Linked DNA regions of Homo sapiens. The protein of the gene in region 2 interacts with the protein of the main gene of each other region in a pairwise test. Each region holds a gene or a part of one and is shown on either strand. Other genes may lie near its edges.

Region 1 (3,511 bases), on a different chromosome or scaffold from region 2:
GAGAATCTAGAACCTTTTCTATACTGTAGAGGCTTTCTTGAATGCCTCTTTGTCCCCACTGTAGCTCTTTTTGTTTAAACTTGTCAGTTGATCTCTTATGGCAGCCTTGCCCACCTTTGATTTATCCCTTATACCAAGGTTTCTCAATTTCCACAGTCTTGACATTTGGTACTAGATAATCCTTTGTTGTGGGGGCTGTTATGTGCATTGTGAGATGCTGAGCAGTGTCCCTGGCCTCTACCAGGAGATGCCAGTAGCATCCCGAGTTGTGACAATCAAAAATGTCTCTAGACATTGCCAAATGTCCCTCGGGGCAAAACTGTCACCTAGCTGAGAACCACTTCTCAATCTGACCCTGAATTATCTTTGAGAAACCAATATTTACTGCAGTATACCCTTAAATAGTTGAGGGCTCCCATTGTCTATGAATAAACTCCCTGGCATGACATATTTTGCCTTTATTATATCATCCAACACCCCCCACCAGCACAGGCAGTTAGGTACCTTATCTGCTGCTGACAGTCTCGTCCAGGGTTTGTCTGCCCTCCTGTCATAGTCCTGCGCTTTTGCTACTTCCACGTAATCACTGAATCGTATCAGAATTTTTCTGTCTCTTAATTCATCAACAGTGGGTCTCTGATTAAGCTAAAATTAAAGATCATCATAGTTAAGTATCACATGCCAAACTAGCTTTTTTGAAGTACTCTGAACAAACAGCACTTCTCTTAAAAAACAAAACAAAACAAAAAAAACCTGAAACTGGAAAATATAACCCAAATACAAGCAATCTCTAATGTGAAGGGCTGAAATTATATACTGTACTCTTAAATCACAATCCCCCTTCCTCCAACATATTTTATCAGAAGGAGTCACACCCCCAGTAGTACATAGCACCAGCTCAAGGAATGGTTAGTGAATTAACTTAGATTTTATGGCATCACTGGCTTCAGATACAATTAGATAAGCTTTTTAAAAGTACTAATAAAGTTATTATATGTCCAGCTTAGGAAGGATATTCTGTTAATTTCAAGAGAATTATTATGGAGCAGCACAACGAAGAAGGGGAATCCAGAACACTTGAATTTAGAAATGGTCAAGGCTTTAAAAGTAGATTAAGATTTATAGAGTTGCTACCTGTATTGGCCATAGTAAATGTTAACTGTTTGAGTCACAGAGAACAAACCTTTGAGTCTAATAAAGCTTTCTGCAACTGAGGAACTTCTAGACATATTGGAGGTGAACAAAAGCGATGAGTGTAAAATGTGACTAAAACACTGATACCCAGGTATGCTTTTCCTAGACACTGTAAATTAAGAAAATGCCAATCAACTTCTGGCTTCCACCTGAACATAAGTAAAAAATGTCATGTGCATTGTGCACCTCTCCAAGTGCTACCGTGCTAGGGAAGGACTTCGTCCATAGGGAACGTCAGAGGGAGTTAATTCATTGTTGCTGAGCAAATATCCTGATTTAACTGATGCCATGATGTCCAGGAGAACATTATTCATGATCACAGAGTGATACCTAGCATTACCCATCCCACCTGCTACCGAAGCAGCTGTTCTCTAGACCACCTTTTATTATTCAGGCAATAAAATGCTTATACTACCTTTCTTGTCAATCTTTGCTTGATTTCTCTTCTTTCTTCCTGCTCTGTCTGATCATTCCTTTCTGTGAAAGATTAAAATAGGAAAAAAAAAATAACAAAGAGAAACAGGTTGAAACGTTCTTCTCTTCAGCAGGGAAGTGTTCCCAAGATATCCATATTTCTGGGAGCTGAAGTTAATTCCACATCACTCATGGTGTTTTCTTCCCACTTTGTCAGTCACTGCTCAGGAGATCATGGTCTCATTACACAGAAATACTTGTACTAAGCAAAGCTTTGCTGTCATCCCAACCTGGTCTCCTCAGCCCTTCTGTGCATTAGAAACAACCACAGATATGGCTGCTGTTTGTTTAAGGAAGTAGACACCTCTGTGTCTGTCTTTCTCCCCAAATATCTTTATATTTACATCTAGCACTTAGATGCCACATAAAAAAAGCTGTAGTAGACTAAGTAAATAAATGTATATGTACATTTCAATATAAATAGCACTGCCACTAATTTTTTTCCTTAATAAGCGTACAGACTTTTTAACCAACATAAAACATGGAACACCTTCTTCAGCTCCTGGGCAGCATATGCTTGCCTGGAATTTATATGTTCAGACTATATTTCAAATCTTAACACATCTATGAACCTCGCTGACTCTCCATTGCTGAAGCGTGAACACTGTTATATGACAGTGCCTTTTAAAGGAGCCCAAGTCCCTCAGCAAAATTAGCTTTGCTTGGTAAGTTGTGACTATTAACATTCAAGCTGTGCTCGCACCTACCCTTGGAAGCCAAAAATAGACGAAAGTGCTGAGATATAGTATAAAACGTAAGCTTCCCCCTGGGATACAAGATAATGGCTGTCCTATTTCTGGTGTTCTCTGTTGCTAAATAAAGCCTTATGTCCCTGACCTGAACATAGCTCCATTCCTAGGAAAGAGATTTCAACAATCAGCACTCCTAGAAACACTGGTAGGTTTTGGTAAGGGAAATCCTGCCACTTGCAATTAACACAATTTCACATTATCTGCCTTTATGTAAAAGATGCGTTTCAAATATTTATACATTTGTGGGATTGGTTATATGAGAGTTTAATATATTGTGCTTTCCAGTAATTTTTTTTAAGTGAGTCATCTTGGATTAGGGTGTTTTAGAAAAGGTAATGAAATCCTCTTTCTGCTTAATTCTTTATACAAGTGAGAAACCAGAAGAAACCATACTTTTAAGGTATCATCAGAAAGCTGATACAATTAGAGAGACATTGTGAAAGTGTCCAGACAAGGCAAGCCATGAGGGATTTACGTGACGTAAAATGTTTCAGATTTCTTTAAAATAGGCCATGGGCAGCTCCCAAGTGCAGCTTCCATGTGAAAAGATTGAAACAAAGTCAGATCTTTTTTTTTTTTTTAATCCTGAAAAATGCCATAATTACTACGAAGGTCACCAGCAGGGTCTTTGGAGAACTGATCTTTGAAAGTTCCTGTCAGAGTGCTGCTTTGTGCCAGGCGCTCTGTTGGAGACCTCCTCCAAGAAGTCCTCCCTGTTAGCCTAAGCCCACAGACCTCCCCTTCTGAGCTCCCCTTAGTGATATGTTTATGGATTTCTTATTTCCAGACCCAGAACACCCTCTGCATTATACAAAGCAAGGGACCCATAATCAGGACTGCTATACTCATATTTTCTGGAAATAGCTCCAGCAGCTTGGACAGTTATACCTGAGACTTCCATGAATATCCAGAAATGTATTACTGCTTCTGATGCAGTAGTTAAGAAGATGGGCAATGGAGTTAGGCAGACCTGGGGTTGAACTCTAGTGCTATCCTTTTCCCAATATTCATTTATTAAAAAGTGCAAACCTCACAAATATGTTGCAATGATTAAATGAGGGAATATATACCAAGTACTGAATATAGTCCCT
Region 2 (5,027 bases):
TTTTAAAGCAAATCCCAGGCATGTCATTTTACCTCTACACACTCAAGTATGCATTCCTGGAAAAACACAGACATTCTTCTTACATAACAATTAATGATTATGAAACAGCTAAAATAATTGATACCGGCCAGGAGCAGTGGCTCACACCTGTAATCCCAGCACTTTGGGAGGCTGAGGTGGGCAGATCACCTGGGGTCAGGAGTTTGAGATCAGCCTGGCCAGTATAGTGAAACCCCGTCTCTACTAAAAATACAAAAATTAGCCAGGCGTGGTGGCAGGCGCCTGTAGTCCCAGCTACTCGGGAGGCTGAGGCAGGAGAATCACTTGAACCTGGGAGGCGGAAGTTGCAGTGAGCCGAGATCATGCCACTGCACTCCAGCCTAGGTGACAGAGTGAGACTCGGCCTCAAACAAAAACAAAAAATTAAAAGATTAAATAATTCATACCTATTACCAAGTCTACAATCAAATGTTCTCTTTTTTTGAGACTGAGTTTCACACCCATTGCACAGGCAGGAGTGAAATGGTACGATCTACACTCACTGCAACCTCTGCCTCCTGAGCTCAAGCGACTTTCCTGCCACAGCCTCCCAAGCAAGCTGGGACTACAGGTGCACACCACCACATCTGGCTGTTTTGTATCTTCTGTGGAGACAGAGTTTTGTCATGTTGCCCAGCCTGGTCTCCAGCTCCTGGGGCTCAAAGGATCTGCCTGCCTCAGCCTCCCAAAGTGCTGGAATTACAGACATGAGCCACTGCACTGAGCCACAATCAAATTCTTCAATGGTCTCAAAAATACTTTTTTAAAGTGTGGTTTGCTCTTATCAAAATCGCCATTATGCACAAAGATTATATAAAAATGAGGCTGGGCACAGTGGTTCACGCTCACGCCTGTCATCTCAGCACTTTGGGAGGCTGAGGCGCAGATCACTTGAGCTCAGGAGTTCAAGGGCAGCCTGGCCAACATGGTGAAACCCTGTCTCTACTAAAAATACAAAAATGAGCCAGGCGTGGTGGTGCGTGCCTGTAATCCCAGCTGCTCCGGAGGCTGAGGCAGAAGAATCGCTTGAGCCTGGGAGGCGGAGGTTACAGTGAGCAGAGATTGTGCCACTGCACTCCAGCCTGGGTGACAGAGTGAGACTCCATCTCAAAAAAAAAAAAAAAAAAAAAAATCTAAATCATATCTACAAAGCTTCAAAGAAGCACTGAAAATTTTGTTAGGTTTGCTGTATACTACAAAAATACATTCTTTTTTTTGAGACTGGGTCTAGCTCTTTCACAAGGGCTGGAGAGCAGTGACATAAACATGGCTCACTGCAGCCTTGATCTCCTAGGCTCAAGCGATCCTCCCACCTCAGCCTCCCACGTAGCTGGGACCACAGGCACGCACCACCACACCCAGCTAAATTTTTGATTTTTTTTGTAGAGATGGAATCTCATTTTGTTGCCCAGGCTGGTCTCAAACTCCTGTACTTAAGCAATCCACCCATCTCAGCTTGCCAAAGTGCTGGGATTATAGATGTGAGCCACCATGCCCAGCCCCAAAATATTTCTAAACATTTCCTCTTTTAGGGTGATAAAAGGTTAACAAATCACTAGATTGTTAAGTGTGAGATCCAGGAACTGGCTCTGCCACCTCTCCTACTGCTTTCCTTGTACAACTCATTTAGCTTTCTTGGATATGTTTCCTCAAAACAAAATGAGAGGGCTTATGTGAAGTTAACAAATAATAAATGTTTAAGAGTCCAGGTGTGGTGGCACACGGCTATCGTCCCAGCTACTTGGGAGGCTGAGGCACAAGAACTGCCTGAACCCGGGAGGCACAGGTTGCAGTGAGCAGAGATTGCGCCATTGCACTCCAGCCTGGGTGACAGAACAAGAATCTGTCTGCCCCTCCGTCTGCCCCCAAAAAAAAGAAAGAAAAAAGAAAAAGCTTAAGAGTTTTATATTTCATACCTGATGAGCTCGACAAATCAAATCTAAATCATGACGATTCAGAAATTTACTGACTACATCAGCTCCAAAAGTAAAGGAAACACCACGATCATTTTCTCCCCAGCCTTGCACATCCTTATCTGGATCAGACCATAGCAAATCACAGAGCAAACCTTTAAAGGACAGAAATACAGCAATTAAGAACAAAATTTACAGATTTATAGAATATAGCACATCTACATCAAATTTCAGTTCCTTTCTTGCCCTCTTACCTTTTACTAAACAATGACCATCACTTGCCTAAGTATTCCAGCCTATGTAACTTATACTTTTGTTAAAGCAACCATACAAACCATACAAATATAATCTTCCATGGCCTCTTAAGGTAGTACTTTCCAACCCTTTCCACATATAGGAAATATGTGCATGGCACTTACAGCACAACAATACATGGAAAAGGCTGTTCATCTTTTGGGTAGTTTCTCCATATGAATAACCAAACAACCCAGTGGTATTTCCTCAACAGTTCATCCTTTCCTTACGGTTCCACTGTTTCTGAGCACCACAGTCTATTCTGTTAGTCTATTTTACTTATCCCTGAGCCAATAACAGACTAGAGCTTTTTAATAAGTCTTTATATTTGGTAGGGCTAGTATCCTCCATTTTTTTTTCAGGATTGTCTTGGTTACTTTTTGATCTTTTGTTCTTCCACATAAACATTAAAAACAATTGCCTAATTCCATAAAAAACTCAATTGTGATTTCACTGGAATTGTATTTGATCTACAGATCACTTGAGCGAAAAAAAAACATTTTCTACTGAGACCCTGAGGATTTTTTTTTAAATGTGGAAGAACAAAATCAGATCAGATCCTTGACTTTGGTAATGTTTGGAGCCCTGGAAAAGAGGTCAGGGTTAAAAATATTTACTTGAGTATTGTCATCATATTAATGGTAGTGGAAATCTTAAGAGGGACTCAGACCACCTTAGGAATACAAAGTGAGAAGACCAGCAAATGAATTCTGAGGAATTCAAACATTTAATAGGCAGGTAGATGAGGGAGAATGAACATTAGGTATTGAGAAGGAATGATCAAGACAAAGGGCTTAGTATAGTAAACGTATCCCGAAAGGGGAAACAATCGTCCTAAAGTAGGAAATGTGCCATGAACAAGGGCAGTAGGACGAAGACCAAAAATGTGCCACTTACAATTAAATCATCAGACCTCAATGCAAGTTTCTTGGTGATTGAGGGTAACGGAGTGGGTAAAAGTCCAACTGTAGTGATATTAAAAGAAGGGTGGATGTTGAGATGGTGATGGTGATTTTCTAAGAATTGCAGTGGCTAAGAGAAGATACATATATATTTTTTTGAGACGGAGTCTCGCTCTGTTGCCCAGGCTGGGATGCAGTGGTGCAATCTCTGCTCACTGCAAACTCTGCCTCCCGGGTTCACGCCATTCTCCTGCCTCAGCCTCCCGAGTAGCTGGGACTACAGGTGCCCGCTACCACGCCCGGCTAATTTTTTGTATTTTTAGTAGAGATGGGGTTTCACTGTGTTAGCCAGGATGGTCTCGATCTCCTAACCTCGTGATCCGCCCGCTTCGGCCTCCCAGAGTGCTGGGATTACAAGTGTGAGCCACCGCGCCCAGCCAAGAAGATAATTTTTAAAGAGTTAAGTCAGTTTTAAGAATTTTAAATAATCCATAAACATCATAGTATGGTTTAGGAGGAAAGGGCATCTTCATTTTCAGTTACAGTACATCATATCTTGATAGAGGCATTATAAAACCATTTGTAGAATTAGTGGCAATGTATTCAATCTCTATCATTGATATATCCCAAGCTCCCTGTATGTTGTTTTAAGAAATTCACTAGCACACAAAATCCACTGGAATAGTCAGTCTCAATTCTTAAGCCCTTTCTGGTTGAAGCTGACTCTTCGAAAATATACACCCACCCAGTGCTTAATAATGCTTTCATACTTTCCAGCCTCTTTCCAGTAGAAAGCTAAGGTATTAAGAATCTATAATTTCTTTTTTTTTTTTTTTTTTTTTGAGACGGAGTCTCGCTCTGTTACCCAGGCTGGAGTGCAGTGGCACGATCTCGGCTCACTGCAAGCTCCACCTCCCGGGTTCATGCCATTCTCCTGCCTCAGCCTCCCGAGTAGCTGGGACTACAGGCGCCCACTGCCACACCCAGCGAATTTTTAGTAGAGATGGGGTTTCACCGTGTTAGCCAGGATGGTCTCGATCTCAAGAATCTATAATTTCAGTGAGACAATAAAACTGTATAAAATTAGAATAGAGTTTGAGGTTTAGGAAACATGACACTCTGGATGCATTAAAAAAATCAAATAATGGTAGCAACAACAATCTGGAATTCTTTAACCTTAACAGGGTCTAGATAAGAATTTCAGGCCAGGTATGGTGGCTCACGCCTGTAATCCCAGCACTTTGGGAGGCCGAGGTGGGCGGATCACCAGAGGTCAGGAGTTCAAGACCAGCCTGGCCAACATGGTGAAACCCTGTCTCTATTAAACATACAAAAATTAGCTGGGCACAGTGGCAGGAACCTGTTATTCTAGCTACTTGGGAGGCTGAAGCAAGAGAACTGCTTGAACCTGGGAGGTGGAGGTTGCAGTGAGCCGAGATCAGGCCATTGCACTCCAGCCTGGGCGACAAGAGTGAAATTCTGTCTCAAAAAGAATTTCAGAGTCAAGATTTATTGTTTAATGAGCTAGCATCACAATCAACTAGGCTGCTTCAAATAATGTATTAACTTATAAATTAAATTTCTGAATGTTGCAGACACTATCAAAGATCAAAATAACTGTTTTCAGCATCTTGAAAACTTCTCATTAAAATACGCTAAAATAAATAAAACATGCTAAAAACAGAAGCCTAGCATATCACACTAGATCAGTTTACATCTGAACTATAAACAGATATTCTGAAGAATGACCAGTAATACATATTTATATTATACCTTATTTTAAAAATAGCACTTTGGGTGTTTTTTGAAAGAGAGGGTCTCACTGTGTCACCCAGGCTAGAATGCAGGAGCACAATCACAGGTCACCGCAGCCTCAACT

The links. The genes of interacting proteins can lie anywhere in the genome.
Region 1: the proteins of PPP1CB (region 2) and PHACTR3 interact in binary tests that used the Homo sapiens proteins (3 or more experiments, as listed by UniProt).

What each region holds. Positions count from the first base shown.
Region 1 is NC_000020.11:59,838,529-59,842,039, reverse strand, and holds part of PHACTR3 (phosphatase and actin regulator 3), read right to left. Parts: intron 1,672-3,511; coding exon 1,610-1,671; intron 646-1,609; coding exon 505-645; intron 1-504.
Region 2 is NC_000002.12:28,785,738-28,790,764, reverse strand, and holds part of PPP1CB (serine/threonine-protein phosphatase PP1-beta catalytic subunit), read right to left. Parts: intron 2,108-5,027; coding exon 1,956-2,107; intron 1-1,955. UniProt on the Homo sapiens protein: Protein phosphatase that associates with over 200 regulatory proteins to form highly specific holoenzymes which dephosphorylate hundreds of biological targets.